2 linked regions of the Homo sapiens genome follow. The main gene of each other region encodes a partner of the protein of the gene in region 2 in a complex. Each region holds a gene or a part of one and is shown on either strand. Other genes may lie near its edges.

The links. Proteins that work in one complex are often made in the same cells at the same time.
Region 1: the proteins of PML (region 2) and SUMO1 are in contact, whole or in part, in a crystal structure (PDB 8DJI), measured with the Homo sapiens proteins. Residues at the interface, in NP_150241.2 of Homo sapiens: Glu554, Arg555, Val556, Val557, Val558, Ile559, Ser560, Ser570, Ser571, Ser572, Arg573; in NP_001005781.1 of Homo sapiens: Gly19, Glu20, Tyr21, Ile22, Lys23, Ser32, Glu33, Ile34, His35, Phe36, Lys37, Val38, Lys39, Thr42, Lys46, Leu47, Ser50, Arg54, Glu84.

Annotation. Positions count from the first base shown.
Region 1 is NC_000002.12:202,235,212-202,243,322, forward strand, and holds the start of SUMO1 (small ubiquitin-related modifier 1 isoform a precursor), read right to left. Parts: upstream 3,387-8,111; 5' UTR 3,241-3,386; coding exon 3,229-3,240; intron 1-3,228. UniProt on the Homo sapiens protein: Ubiquitin-like protein that can be covalently attached to proteins as a monomer or a lysine-linked polymer.
Region 2 is NC_000015.10:73,990,093-73,998,337, reverse strand, and holds the start of PML (protein PML), read right to left. Parts: upstream 3,623-8,245; 5' UTR 3,526-3,622; coding exon 3,397-3,525; intron 335-3,396; coding exon 1-334. Other genes in the region: STOML1 (stomatin-like protein 1), read left to right, coding at 6,115-6,247, 7,881-7,987.

The DNA of each region.
Region 1 (8,111 bases), on a different chromosome or scaffold from region 2:
GACCCAGCAATTGAAGTCTTGTGTGTATTTAATGTCCACCGATTTTAACCTTGTTATTACTCAATTTCACTATTTTAACACCAGACAATAACCTTCTGAGAGCTGCCTCAGAAAACACATCACTCTAAAATAACTTGATTCAAATTAAGGTTGTCTTCTTAGGACAGTGGTTTAGTCTCATGCTGATATTAAACAGTACAGGATTTGGAGATTCTTGTTCTCACTTATAAACCTCTTAAGATTAAGGGTTCAGCTTTATAACTCTTTTAAGTCTTTAGCACTCAACACTGAACTTGTACTGGGTCTTCTTTGTTTTGAGTCAGGGTCTCTATCGCCCAGGCTGAAGTACAGTGGCATGATCTTGGCTTGCTGCAACCTCGACCTCGCAGGCTCAGGTGATCCTCCCATATCAACCTCCTGAGTAGCTGGGACTACAGGTACAGGCCATCATGCCTGGCTAATTTTATTTTTTGTAGAGACGACGTCTCTCTATATTGCCCAGGCTGGTCTCAAACTGGGCTCAAGCAATCCTCCCCCACTTAGGCCTCCCAAAGTGCCAGGATTACAGGTGTGAGGCGCTGCACCCGGCCAATGTACTGAGTCTTTTTTTTTTTTTTAAACGGAGTCTCACTCTGTCGCCCAGGCTGGAGTGCAGTGGAGTGATCTCCAGTTACTGCAACCTCCGCCTCCCGGGTTTAAGCAGTTCTCCTGCCTCAGCCTTCTGAGTAGCTGGGATTACAGGTGCGCACCACCACGCCTGGCTATTTTTTGTATTTTTAGTAGAGACGGGGTTTCACCATGTTAGTCAGGCTGGTCTAGAACTCCTGACCTCGTGATCCACCCAACTTGACCTCCCAAAGTGCTGGGATTACAGGCTTAAGCCACTGCACCCGGCGAGTCCTAATGATGTTGGTCAATCAGCCTACAGCAACAGTTCTCAAACTTTTTGTTCTCAGGAATCTTACACTTAAATTTATTTAGAATCCCATAAAGCTTTTGTTAGGTTGGTTACATCTATTGATGTTTACAGTATTAAACACTGAAAACTGAGAAATGTCTTAAATATTAATTCATTTTAAAATACCAACAAACCTGTTATATGTTAACAAATATATATTTTTATTAAAAATATTTTTCAAAACAAAATTAATGAAAGAGTGGGACTGTTACACATTTTTGCAAATCTCTTTAATGTCTGGCTTAATAAAAACAGCTAAACAGCTGGATTTTCACATCTGCTTCCACATTTAATTTGTTTTATCACAAGTCATGTTAGTTTCTAGAAACGTCCATTGAACACTCATGAAAGAATGACAGTGAAAAAGACAAATAATGTCCTAGTATGAACATGAAATAAAAGAATCTATTTGTATCCTAGGTCCTTCATTTCTTTATGTATCTCTTAAATAACCTGACTTCAAAATGGAGCAATAAATTCTACATTTTATAATTATTTCTTTATGTTGCTCTTCCATCAGTCTACAATAAATTTCAAAATGCTTCCTAGACGCTTCTGGGAAACAAAATAAAAGGCTGACGAAACTAAGCATTTACGCCTATACTTTTCTTCCTAGTAACCAAGTAAACAACTACCTAGGGAAACACAATGCCCACTTGGGAATTAATCTAGATTATTAGTAAGTAGATCCATCCAAAATTCATCTAGATTATGGTTAAGCTTTAAAATGTTAAGTGTACATTTTGTACAATAGTACCAATCTGCAAAAACCTCACTTGCTCTCACGAAATGGTACAAAACTGGGTTAAAAGCCAAGGGAATAGGTGTGTTAAATTTAAAAGTTCAAGTACATCGTGGAGTTGAATGAAAAATAGTTTTCTGAATAACTACCATTAAATGAGTAAAAGTCCAAAAATAATGTAAAAAGTCAAAGTCGGCTGGGCGCGGTGGCTCACGCCCGTAATCCCAGCACTTTGGGAGGCCGAGGTGGGCGGATCACGAGGTAAGGAGATCGAGACCAGCCTGGCCAATATGGTGAAACCCCGTCTCTACTAAAAATACAAAAATTAGCTAGGTGTGGTGGTGAGTGCCTGGTGGTGAGTGCCTGTAATCCCAGCTACTCGGGAGGCTGAGGCCCGAAAATTGCTTGAACCCAGGAGGCGGGAGGGTGCAGTGAGTGGAGATCGCACCACTGCACTCCAGCCTGGCGACACAGCGAGACTCCGTCTCAAAAAAAAAAAAAAGTCAAAGTCGTCTGAGCAAACAAAAGACCAGACAAAAACTTTATGAATTAAAAACTAGCCATAAAGTTGTTTAATTAGAACAGGATGAGGAAGAAAAGGGGAAATCGATCACTCCTGATTAAGTGCAAATCCCAAGTAAATTATTGATACTAACAGTGAGCTGGAGCACTTTGCCTTACCAGGCAACTTTCTGCAAATATTCTGCAACGACTCTACATACACAAAGTTTTCCTATGCTTTTCCTCAAAAATATGAGACTTCCTCAGGTTAATGCCCAGGTGAGATGCTTTTTGTTGCTCTAGCAGTTTAGTTCTATTTTCTTTCTTGGTTATTATGAATGCTCTCTTACAACTGGAGAGCTAGGATGAACCAATCCCGAGTAAGAAACGGGAAAGTACAGTAAAGAGGCGACAGCTCTGCACCCCCACACGGAAAAAGACTCAGAGGAGAGCAGCGGCATCCTTGCCCTAGCTCCAATCCGAACGGAGGCAGGATTCCCAACAACATCGGACGTCTCCCTCCCTCGCCGCCCCACGCCCTCCCGACGAAGAAGCAAAAAGTGGAGAGTCCAGCCGCTTCTCAGGGCCACGGAGCCTCCCAGTCAGGGATTCTCTCCCGTTACATAACTAAGGCCTAGGGCCCTGCTTCTGCGATTAGTCCTCTGGAAGGAGACGGACGGGTTCTCCAGAGACCCTCCCAGGGAGGTGGAAGCGGGGCTCTGCACCTAGTCGACCCGGGAGAAAGAAGTGGGACGACATGAGGGAGGCCGCCACCAAAGGCGGTGGGGTACGGGGGTGATGAGCGAGCCCGGAGAGGGGCGGGCGGCTCCGGGAGCCCCGCAGCAGGCCCCGGCACCTCCGGCCGTAGTCGGCTCCTCTCCCTCGCCTGCCTAGTCCCCACCGGCCGCCCCCTCCCCCATTCCGCGCTCCCCTCCCCCGCGCCTCCATCCCCGACCCCAGCCTAGCGGCAGGCAGACCTGCAGGGAAGGCCCTGGCCACCGCCGTTGGATGGCTCCCAGCCCGGTACCTGGTCAGACATGATGACGGTGGCTTCACCCGGGGGTCTCCGCACAGCAGCGGCCTCGGGTAAGCAGAACCTCGCTCCGGGGTTTACAAATCCTTCTCCCTTCCCCACAGCACAACACCGCGGCTGCAGTAACTTCCGCTACGCCTCGCGTCACTTCCGCTTCGCGCAGGGAGGAGGGAGAGAGAGAAGAGAGGAAAGACAAGGCGGGAAATGGGTGGGGGAGCAGCCAAGGGGAGGGGCAGGCTGTGGAGCTGCTTTGCCGGTGGTCGCGCGGGTGAACGGCAGTTTTGTCAGCTCCTTCAAGGACCAGGTCCTGCGCATCAGTACTAGGGCCATCCCCCAGGAGCAAAGGTCCTGGCTCCATGTCTCAATGTTTGGAGCCACTCTCACAACCTAGATTGCTCTCTCCGTTACACCTTGCGCGTCTCTGACGACTGAGCCGAGATACTTCTTTTGTCTCCTCCCAGCCTTGCTCATCAACCCCCAACCCCCAAATATGTTTATTTGAATGCCAGTACTTCTAGCTCTAGAACCAACATTTTCGGTTAACCAGCACCCTTGCCAAACACATGACCGTGATTTAAAACAACAAGAAAGCAACGACCCAACACAATCTTGACGGCTACTGATGCTAAAGACCGCTGCTGAAAGTTCTAAATGGGGAGTGAGTAATTCCAACCCTTGAATTGGTTGCTTTGAGTTAAGGTTAAAGAATGATTCTTCTTGGCAGGGCGCTGTGGCTCACGCCTATAATCCCAGCACTTTGGGAGGCCGAGGCGGGCGGATCACCTGAGATCAGGAGTTCGAGACCAGCCTGGCCAACACGGTGAAACCACGTCTCTACTAAAAATAACAAAAATTAGCCGGGCGTGGTGGCTGGCGCCTATAATCCCAGCTACTAGGGAGGCTGAGGCTGGAGAATCGCTTGAACCCGGGAGGCGGAGGTTGCAGTGAGCCGAGATCCGCGCCATTGCACTGCAGCCTGGGCGACAAGAGTGAAACTCCCTCTCAAAAAAAAAAAGGTGGCGGGGGGGGCGATTCCGCTCCCCTCGCATGGGGAAGCAGGCTCTGACCGGCCTGCAGAGCTGCAGCAGCCCTTTGCGCCCTCCTCGCCCTCCCCACCAACATCATGCTCCAATTCCTGCTTGGATTTACATTGGGCAACGTGGTTGGAATGTATCTGGCTCAGAACTATGACATACCAAACCTGGCTAAAAAACTTGAAGAAATTAAAAAGGACTTGGATGCCAAGAAGAAACCCCCTACTTCATGAGAATGCCTCCAGCACTGCCTTCGGGATATACTGATTCTACTGCTCTTGAGGGCCTCCTTTACCATCTGAACCAAAAGCTTTTGTTTTCATCTCCAGCCTCTGGGCTCCTCTTTGCTAGACCCTGTGTTTTTGGCTTTAGAGCAAGCAAAATGGGGCCTCAATTTGAGAACTACCCTACATTTCCAACATACTCACCTCTTCCCATATTCCCTTTCCAACTGCATGGGAGGTTCTAAGACGAATTGTGGTGCTAGATTAGTAAACATGACTTTTAATGGAAAAAAAAAAAAGAATGATTCTTCTTAGATTTCTTCTGTAAAACACAATGGCCCTACTGGCATACACAGTGGCCCTACGGGCATACTCATGGAGGATAAGAATATAAACAAATAGAATTGAGAATCCTGAAATAAATCAATAACCCTCACATTTACATCAACAAAAACACCAAGACAAATCAATGGTGAAAGAACAGTCTTTTCAACAGTTGGTACTACCACTGCTGGACATTCACATGCAAAAGAATGACTTCGTTTTGTTTTTTGTTTGTTGTTTGTTGTTGTGTTTTTTTGGTCACCATCTCAAAAAAAAAAACCAAAAAACACACACACAAGGAGGCCGGGCACCGTGGCTCACACCTGTAATCCCAGCACTTTGGGAGGCCCAGGTGGGCAGATCTCTTGAGCCCAGGAGTTCAAGACCAGCCTGGGCAACATGTTGCAGTGTGCCAAGATCATCCCACTCCACTCCAGCCTGGGCAACAGAGTAAGACCTTGTCTCAAAAAAAAAAAACAATCAGGCGTGGTGCTTCACACCTGTAATCCCAGCACTTTGGGAGGCCAAGACGGGCAGATCACTTGAGATCAGGAGTTGGAGACCAGGCTGGCCAATATGGTGAAACCCCATCTCTACTAAAAATGCAAAAGCTAGCCAGGCTTGGTGGCTCAGGCCTGTAATCCCAGTTACTCGGGAGACTGAGGCAGGAGAATCGCTTGAACCTGGGAAGCGGAGGAGGCTGCAGTGAGCTGAGATCACACCATTGCACTCCAGCTTGTTACTGGGTGACAGAGCGAGACTCAGTCTCAAAAAAAAAAAAAAAAAAAAAACAAGGAGATACCACTTTATACCCACTAGAAGGGCTATGTTCAAAAAGACAGAAAATAACAAGTGTTGACAAGGCTATGGAGAAATTAGAACCCTTATACCCTGTTAGTAGGAATATAAAATGCTTTAGGCTAGGCATGGTGGCACTGGCCTATAGTCCTAGCTACTTGGGAGGCTGAGGCAGAAGGATCCCTTGAGGCCACGAGGTGGAAGCCTCAGTGTGCTATGCTATGATCAAGCCTGTGAGCCAATGCACTATATAGCCTGGACAACACAGCAAGACCCTGTCTCAAAAAAAAAAAGTTTTGAAAAACTGTCTGTCAGTTCCCAAAATTGTAAAACATAAAGTCACCATAAGACCCAGAAATTTCACTCCTAGGTATATACCCGAGAGAATTGAAAACATATATCCATTCCAGACTCAGTGGCACATGCCTATAATCCCAGCACTTTGGGAGGCCAAGGCAGGAGGATACCTTGAGGCCAAGAGTTCAAGATTACAGTGAGCTATGATTGCATTCTAGCCTGGGCAGCATAGTGAGACCCTGTGATATGGTTTGGCTCTGTGTCCCCACTCAAATCTCATGTCCAGTTGTTATTCCCAGTGTTGGGGGAGGGACTTGGGAGGTGAGTGAATAATGGGGACAGATTTTCCCCTTGCTGTTCTCAATATAGTGAGTGACTTCTCACGAGATCTGGTTGCTTAAAAGTGCGTAGTACTTTCCGCTTCACAGTCTTTTTCTCCTGCTCTCGTGTGAAGAAGGTGATAGCTTCCCCTTTGCCTTGGTCCATGATTGTAAGTTTCCTGAGGGCTTCCAGTCATGCTTCCGGTTAGGCCTGCAGACCTATGAGTCAATTAAACCTCTTTTCTTCATGAATTACCCAGTCTAAGGCAGCTCTTTACAGCAATGTGAGAACAGACTAATACACTCTGTTTCTAAAAATAAAAATAAAACATATAACAAAAACATGTACACTAATGTTCAAAGCAACATTAGTGAGCTACTGCTCCAGCCTCCTACTAGGGCTGAGGGATTAGGGAGAAAATGGAGAGTGACTGCTGATGGGTACAGAGTTCCTTTTGGAAGTGATGAAAATGCTCTAAAATTGATTGGTGATGGTTGCACAGCTATATGAATATACTAAAAATTATATATTTTAAAGAGGTGAGCAGTATAAGCTAATTATCTCAGTAAAACCATTACATTAAAAAAAAATACAATGGCCTTGAAAAGAGCTGCTAGTAATAGGTGAAGAGGATTATTAAGGGAGCCTACATCCAAGCAAGTTAGTCAGGAAAAGCTTCCAAAATAAATACATAAATAACATCTAAATTGAAGGTCGGAGAGTAAGCTGAAATAAGCTAGAGCAGCAGTAGTTCTTTTTTTTTTTTTTTTGAGACAAATTCTCGCTCTGTCGCCCTGGCTGGAGTGCAGCGGCACAATCTCGGCTCACTGCAACCTCCACCTCCCAAGTTCAAGCAATTCTCTGCCTCAGCCTCCCTGAGTAGCTGGGACTACAGGCACGTGCCACCACACCTGGCTAATTATTTTTTTGTATTTTTAGTAGAGGCGGGGTTTCACCATGTTGGCCAGGCTGGTCTTGAACTCCTGACCTCGTGATCCACCCGCCTCGGCCTCCCAAAGTCCTGGGATTACAGGCTTGAGCCACCACGCCCGGCCCATATAATTCTTAATCTGTATTATAGTTTTTCAGTCCTACAATTTCTATTGGTCTTTTTCAAATTTGCTATGTCCTTGTTAACAATTCAAATTCTCAGTTGACATTCTCTATATACCTTAACAATAATTAACATGGTTATTTTAGATCCTGTTTCTGATCATTCTAGAGCCCCTGGAGGCACTTGCTTTTTTTGATTCTCATTCACATTATCTCCTCATTATCTTTGATTACGTGCTGGGCACTGTGTTTGAAACTTTGCTGAAATAATCTGTAATAACAATATTTTCTTCCTTCAGAGAGGAGTTTTGTCCTAGGGCACTAGGAACCCAGAGTCACCTTAATCCAATTTTAGGGACTGAGATTTTCTACCTGCCAGAATTCTCAAAGCTGGGCTTCAATTCATGCCAGTTCTGTTTCATTCTTAGTCTCAAGAGTCTACCCTTAGATGTCCCATTCCAAATCTTGGGGTGTTCTACACATGATATACTCAACTGTTTTTCCTTCTAAACAGACTTTGATTTCAGAGCAGTTTTAGGTTCACGACAAAATTTAGCAGGAAGTACAGTGCCCATATCACACATGCATCCCACACTATCAATGTCCCACACCAGAATAATATAAATTATTACAATTGATAAACCTATGCTGATGCATCATTATCACCCAAAGTTCACTCTTGGTGTTAGACATTCTATGGGTTTTATTTTTTAATTTTTTTTTTTTTTTTGAGACGGAGTCTCGCTCTGTTGCCCAGGCTGGAGTGCAGTGGCACAATGTCGGCTCACTGTAACCTCTGCCTCCTGGGTTCAAGCAATTCTCCTGC
Region 2 (8,245 bases):
GTGCCTCGAAGCACTTGGCGCAGAGGAGCTGCTCGCACTCAAAGCACCAGAAGTCGGCCGACTCTTTGCAGCGGGTGCACACAGCCTGCGCATCCACAATCTGCCGGTACACCGACAGGCGCCGCTGCAGACTCTCGAAAAAGACGTTATCCAGGGCGGGTGTGTCTGCACCTAGGGGCCAGGGCGCCTGGCAGATGGGGCACTGCATGCCCGACGCCTCCAGGCATCCTGAGCACAGCGTGTGCAGACAAGGCAGCAGCTTCGGGCACTTGGCTTCCGCCTGGCATTGCTGGCAGCGCAGAAACTGGAACTCCTCCTCCGAAGCGGGGGCTCGCTGGGGGACCAGAGAGGCAGGTGAGGCCTGGAGAAGTCCCAAAAGCCCCCACCTACCGGCCAACCACCCTTACAGCTGGACCCTGGAGTAGGACCTCATATTCCATTCCAGCCAGTCATTGGATGATGCAAAACCCTGGCTTATCAGCACCCCAATACCCCCATTTATTCAGGCCCTCCAGCTCTCACTGCACCATTTATTGAGCATCTACTTCTCATCACCCACAGTAATAGGCTCTGAGATATAAGAGGTGTAGGATACATTCTGCCTTCAAGGAACTCAGTTTGGAAGGTAGATACACTAAGTACCAACCTCATATAAAGTGCTTAATGCACAGTTTGGGGGTTCATTAAAGAGGTAAGCATGGAACAACAATATGACCCAGAAATTCCACTCTTAGATATATAACCAAAAGATGTAAAAACAAGGCCCAAACAGATACTTGTACAACAATGTCCACAGCAACACTATTCACAATAGACAAAATGTAGAAACAATCCAAGTATCCATCAACAGATGAATAGATAAACAAAATGTGGTCTACACATATAATGGAATATTACTCAGCGTTAGAAAGAAATGAAATTCTGATACATGCTACAACATAGATAGACCTCAATGACATTATGCTAAGTGAAATAAGCCAGTCACAAAAGGTCAAACACTGTATGATTCTGAGGCAGGAGAATAGGGTCTGGAGGCAGGGAACCTAAGGCCGATTCCCTCTGACTTCCTAGAACTAAATCGAAAGGAAAACCGCAACTCTCCATGCCTCAGTAACAAAAGGAAGAGAGGCTACTCTCTTTGCAAATCACCCCATTTCCTGCAGGGCAGATGGAAAATTGAAAGTACGTCTGGTTGGTTGCTTTCTGCAACCAATGGGGTGAACACCAAGTGGCCAATGGGAAACCTCTAGGGGGTATTTGGAACCCAGAAGATTCTGTAACTGGGGTCCTTGAGCCCTGCTCTAGCCGCTCCCACCCTGTGGGGTGTACTTTCATTTTCAATAAATCTCTGCTTTCATTGCTTCACTCTTTCCTTGCTTTGCTGTACATTTTGTCCAATTCTTTGTTCAAAATGCCAAGAACCTGAACAATTTGCAGTCAAGATCCTCTACTGGTAACAATTCCACTTACATGAAATATCTAGAATAAGTAAGTTCATAGGGACAGAAGGTAGATTAGAAGTTACCAAGGGCTAGGGGAAGGAGAAAATGAGGAGCTATTGCATTACTGGGGCTCAGGACACACCACTTCAAAGTATGACTGCAGGAGGCTCTTGAAATATACTTCTTTGGCATATTTTAAGCTGGTTATTCTGAGAAACTGCTGATACAGGAATAGCTCTGAAAAGCTCTCCTTTTGTAAAAAAGAAAGGCATTTATATCTTAAAAGAAAATCTACATTAGTAAAATGATCTATATTAAAAGAGGGCTGCTCCAGACAACTTTTATTATCTAAGAACTTTTAATCTACATAGCAAGACAACCTCTATTCACCAAACAGCTCCTCTCCTCACCCTCCCATAACTTGTGTTATCACCATCACCCAGAAGCTCCAAGCTCTTTTCCGTAGCTCAGGATGTTATACAGGCTTCAATCATCTGACCTTTCTTTGAGTCTCATATATTGTGGGACTCCTGAGTATACATATGTAATTAAATATGGGTTTTCCGCTGGTAATCTATTTTATGACTATTTAATTCATAGGCTATTTAATTCATAGCCCAGCCAAGGAAACTAGAAGGGTGGAGGCAAGCCATCTTTCCCTCCCCTATGGTTTAAAGAGTACAGAGTTTCTGGAGTAATGAAAAAGTTCTGGAAATAGATGGTGGTGATGGTTACACAATATTGTGAATCTACTTAATGCCACTGAATGGTACACTTATAAATGGTTAACATAGGAACTTATCCATTAGGTATATTTTACCACATTTTGTAAAATACAAAAACAGGCCGGGCATGGTGGCTCATGCCTGTAATCCCAGCACTTTGGGAGGCCGAGGTGGGTGGATCACGAGGTCAGGAGTTAGAGACCAATCTGGCCAACATAGTGAAACCCCATCTCTACTAAAAATATAAAAAATAGCCAGGTATGGTGGCGTGGCCTGTAATCCCAGCTACTCGGGAGGCTGAGGCAGGAGAATGGCGTGAACCCGGAAGGAGGAGGTTGCAGTGAGCCGAGATCGCACCATTGCACTCCAGCCTGGGCGACAGTGTGAGACTCCGTCTCAAAAACAAACAGATAAACAAACAAACAAAAAACAAAGCAAAACAAACAAACAACAACAAAAAAAAACCAAAGTGCTTAATACAGTACCTGGCACATTTGAAGTGCTCATAAATGTTACCTAGTATTGTTAAGTAATGTTATTCTTAGTTGTAATAATGTTTATAAAAGTTACTGTAATACGGTGTCCTCTGTACTTTCATGAAGGGGAGTAAAAGGGCCTGAAAGGCAGCAGAGCAAGAAACCCAAGTAGTTCCTTTGTCGGGGGAGGTGGGAGGTGGGCAGGAAAGGTGTGGCAAGAGAAGGGTTCGTTGGGGAGGCTTCCTTAAGCAGAAACCACATGAGCTGGGAGGCCTTGGCAAAGATACCTCTTCAGTCTGAGCCAGTTTCTCACCTCGGATCTGGGAAGTTGGTTTTAGTTTTGCCGTGCCTGGGACATGCCCCTGGCTCCAGGCCAGCGCAACAGGGGTACTACCTCCATCCTCCCTAATCTGAAGTCCTGCATCTGAGGCAAAGTTGAGGCAGGGCTCGAGGGTGGGCGGAAGGGCCCAGGCCCGGAGGCCACTGACCCTTCTCACCTTGCCCAACTGCTCAGTGGAGAAACCGCAGCCCAGCGAGGCCGCCCCAACTCCTCCGTGTCCTCTTTTCTACTCTATCCTACCCTCCCTTCCCTGCCCCACCCGAGACGGTCAGGACCCTGGTGTCTGGACTTCCCGCTTTGTGTCACTCTCTAGGGTACTTGACCAAATCCTCCGTTAGACCCTCTCTTCCCGCCTCTCCCCACCACAGCAAACCAACAAAGCTTAACCCCATCATCCCCTAACCCAATAGTACCTCTGTAGGGCTGGGGCTGGGGCTGGGCTGGCGGCCTTCAGAGGGGGTCTCGGGGGGAGGCATGGTGGGCTCCTGGGGCCGGGCGGGGTCCTGCTGGGGCCTCGGAGATCGGGCGGGTGCAGGCTCCATGGACCCCAGCTTAGTTTCGATTCTCGGTTTAGATCTTGGAGTGCGTGAAGAGAAGCTGAAGGGGAGGCGTGAGCCAGTTGGCTGAGTCCCTTGAGCTGTCCGAAAGGGGAGGTGCCGGCTCAGGGCCCGCCTCTGGAGAGGAAGTGAGACAGAAGCTGGGGGCGGTTCTAGGGGGCAGAGAGGCCGACTGTGGGTTTTAAAGACACGCCCAGAGCGGGGAGGAGGTAGAGGCGGAGAGCTGCAGACCTACCGCTGACTTACGGTAAAGCGGGAGAGGTAGGGCAGAGCTGCAGGGGGGCAGCCCTGCTCCCGGCTTTGATCCATTCATCCGTTCACACTGGCACTGCTTCGTGCCACGTCCTGCCGGGAGCTGGGCGTACAAAGATGAGCCACACGCAGCCCCTGCTTTCTAAGAGCCGTAGATGTAATGGAAGAGCAAGCCTGCAAACGGAGACATTCTGGAAAGGAGAGCCCACAGCTGGGACCTGCAAAAGCAGTGGAAATTCACCAGGGATTTAGGGTTGTAGGTGGTGGGGTACGGGGGACACTTGAAACAGAAAAGATAGCTCTTGCAAAAGCCTGTTTGGGAACTAATTTTGGCCATTTTCAGATTTAAGAGGGAATTCATGAGAAATGATACCCAAGGAGTGTGCTAGGACAAGATCCTAGCTGAGGAGATTGAACCAGTTCTGTGAGTGATGGGAAGTTGCTGAAGGATTTGGAACCAGGGAACAACACGATCAGCTGTGCATGATGGGACAGTCACTCTGACAACCTAGGAGCAGGTGCCCTGGTCTAGGACAGTGGCTGTGGGATGCAGAGGAGGGACTTGATTCAGAGATCCTGGGAAGCCAGTGACTGGAGGTGAGGGAGCAGGATGATGCCTTGAGTGACAGCTGGAAAGGCTGGTGGATCTGAGGTGGTGGGGGCAGGAGGGAGGGGGAGAGCTGGAGAGCGGGTATGAAGAGGGTGAGGGGAGAGCCAGCTAGGTCTTCGCCAATGGAAAAGCATGTCAGACTCCCAGCTGGTAAGGGGAAAGGGGCACAGTTCCAGGTGACCTCACTGGGTCAGCGCCCCGGCTTCAAACTTAAACCATCGCAACCACTGTGCTGGCTCCTGTGTACCCATTCCGTACTCTGTTCCAACTTAGAAACAGACTAGAAAGGATGATGATAGGGCCTGGCTCTTGTAAACCTTACAGTCTGCAGGGTGGAGAGCAGGGGTTGGGCAGATACGCAACTTCCTAGGGACTGTAAGGCCTCAGGAGCCTGCCCTTCCCTCCAGCCTGGTCAGTACTCCCAGGCCTTTAGAGAATCAGTCCATGAAAGCCAAATATGGTGGGCAGCCATCTGCACAAGGGACCTGGAAGTGGGCTATGGCAGGATGGGGCTTCGGAGGCCAGAGGCGATTGGCTGAGGAGGCAGAGCTGGGGAAGCTTTATTCATTTCTTTGCTTGCTTTGGAAGATAGCCTGCTCCCAGACTACCCCAAAGTCCTGTTGGAAGTTAACACTTCTCAAAGGAAATTCACGAGTTGCATTCAGGTTTTCTCAAGCCCTGGAGAGGCAAGTTAATTCCAGGTACCTGGATCAAGGGGCATGCTCTTTCTGGACCTGCAGGACTGAGGGCCTCACCTCTGTGGTGCTCTGGGGCCCCTGCCCTCATGTAGCTCTGTGCTATCCCCTTCTTCCTTACACTCCCATGCTCCCCGAAGTCTGCATGTGAAACTTCTTTCTTTTTGTGCCAAAGTTCAGGCCTTCCTACTCCACCTTGATCACGGTGACCTGGCCAGGCCATTACTTAACAAATAAGTATTGAGACCTGCCCTATGCCAGTCCCTGCTTGCTGGGCTGTGGGTTCACAAAGAGGAATAATTTGCAGACTATGTCCCAGAGAAACCCAAAGTCCAGATATGGCATGTCCTGCCTCCAGTGTGAGAGAAGGAGTGCTGAGAAGGCTGATATAGCATGTCCTTGATCCTGGAGAAGATTGGCTTCCTGTAAACCCTGATGAGATCTTGCTCTCTCGCTCCGACTGCAGTGCAGTGGCACGATCATAGCTCACTGCAGCCTCAAACTCCTGGACTCAAGAGATCCTCCCGCCTCAGCCTCCCAAGTGGCTGGGACCACAGGCAGGCATCCCACGCCAGGCTAATTTTTAAAAATTTTTTGTAGAGATGGGCTCTCACTATGTTGCTCAGGATGGTCCTGAATTCCTGGCCTCAAGCGATCCTCCTGCCTGAGTCTCCCAAATTGATGGATTATAGGAGTGAGCCACCGTGCCCAGCTTCCCCTCCAGCTTTTCTAGGGCTGAGTAGGAGAAGAGGGGAGGAGGCGATGACCCCAGCGGGGTCCGAGGAACGCCGATCACACCCAGTAGCCCTGGGCTGCAGTTCGGTCCTCCCAGCGCAGGGGGAGCCATGCGACGGCGGAAGCGGGCCCCGGCCGGCCTCCTCTTCCTGCGCCCGCGCCGCCGCGGGTGGCCGCGCGGGTGAAGCCGGAAGCAGCAGCCAGGAGGGCGGGGCCGCGTAGGGCCCACTGGCCAGGGAGGGCGCCGCGCGGAGGCGCGGGGCGTGTCTCCTGTCAAAAGCCATGCTCGGCAGGTCTGGGTACCGGGCGCTGCCCCTGGGTGATTTTGACCGCTTCCAGCAGTCGAGCTTCGGCTTTCTGGGCTCGCAGAAGGGCTGCTTGTCCCCGGAGCGGGGCGGCGTGGGGACAGGGGCCGGTGAGTGGCCGCCTGGCACGGCGGAGCCGGGGGGGACCGGCCGGCAACCCCCAGGCCCGAATCTCTGCCTCCGAGGAGTCGGCCGGCCCGGTGCCGTCGCACCCTACGAGGGGGGACTGAGAAAGGGATACGATGTGGAGAGGGGGCTGGACCCGGCGCCTGGTGCTAGCGCCGATCCGCCCTCCCTAGGGTCATGGGGCTTTGGCCCCAGAGCCAGCCAGCGTTGCTCCTATCTTCCAAAACCTCACCTCACCACATTTGTCCTCGGCTCTTATCAGCCCTTTAGGCCTGGGAAGACGTTTCAGGTTTCTATTTCGCATAGAAGAAACCGAGGTCTAGGCAGAGGAGGCCACCAGCACCCTAAAGGCACCTGCTGCAGGGAAATGGAAGAATTTTCGCCCTAGGGGGCACCTCTAGAAGCCCGGGAACTAGGCATCTCCTGGATGTGCAGGCCAAAATGACAGGTCCTCAGCTGCCTGTTGGATCTGCCCTGCTTCTGTCTTGCCCTCAAAGTCTTCTGTGGCTCCTTTGGCCTACAGGCCAGATCCCACGCTGTTCAGCCTAACCGCCTAACCTTGGATTTGATCCCTCCCTGGCCTTCCTGTCCTGAAAGCTCTCCCTATCCAGAAGTCTCTTGAGAGGCCTGGTGGATCAGAGCCAGGCACAAAGTGGAGCCTCAGTGCTCTGGGGCTTAGCCCAGAGGGCAGGGCTTCCTGGAAGAATGGAGCAGGGCTCCCGACTGCTTCCTGTCCAGGGTTGGGAGGAAAGCGGCAAATAACCTCATCCCAGATTCTGGAGCTGTCTCGGCTTTGCTCCCAACTTGGGCTCCTGAATCTCCAGGGGCCAGGACATTTGGCTTGGATAAGCCTCATCTTTCTAGCCCTGCCCCTGACCCCGACCCCTAACAATTTTCTTGAATTGAAATAGGCAGGGTTTTTTTTTGTTTTTGTTTTTTGTTGTTTGTTGTTTTTTTGAGATGGAGTCTCGCTCTGTCCCCCAGGCTGGAGTGCAGTGGCGCCATCTCGTGAAATAGGCATTTTTTAATGGTCATTAAGGCATTAAAGTTGGGTGTGGAATAGAAAATAATAATCTAATTCCTCATCTGTGGCTCCCGTTGATAAGCTATTTATGATTTATCCCTGTAGGCTAAGGCATCATCTTCATAAGGACTCCTGGAAAGCACACTTCTGGGGCTGATGGTATAGGAGGAATGTGTTTTGCCAGCAGTATTCAGTGCATGTTTACAGATGCCCAGGTGCTCCTGGCTCCATGCCAGGTATGGGTAGGCAATATAAATTAAACGAGAGGATTGACCCCTACTCAGTCCAGTGAGGAGAGCATCATCACGCGGACTGGATTCTGAGATTGAATGGCTGTTGCCTAGCAGAGAATAAGGCCTTGTGAGGGTTGTTGGACTTGGGACAAATGAGTGTTGATGTATGGGAGGAGGGAACAGACCCTAACTTGCAGCTGCCCAAAGATACGGGAATATTAGGCAAGGAGCCAGATTGAGAGCCCTGAGAAGGAAGGAGCCTCTCGAGGGGAAGGTGGGCGTAAGGTACACTTGCCCAAGTTCACTCCGCTTGGCAGCTGTCGTGCAGGTCCAGTTGACCACCTCTGCTCTCACCTGCAGATGTACCCCAGAGCTGGCCCTCCTGCCTCTGTCATGGCCTCATCAGTTTCCTGGGGTTCTTGCTGCTGTTGGTCACCTTCCCCATTTCTGGCTGGTTTGCCCTGAAGGTAAGGCTGGCTGGGTCAGCCCCCAGGGTGGTTGGGCCACACTGAGAGCTTTGGCATTGATGAATAAATTTGCCTATCCTCTGTCCCCTTTCCCTAAATATTATTACCCCTTTGTGTAATGGGCTAGGCAAGAACCATTCATTCACATTGGTCAGGGGAGGAAACTAAGGCTTGGGCTTGTCTAAAGTCATACTGGGAGCCAGTAGGGGGTAGAAGCAAGTCCCAAACTCCTAAGTCCTGGGATCTGGACACTGGCTT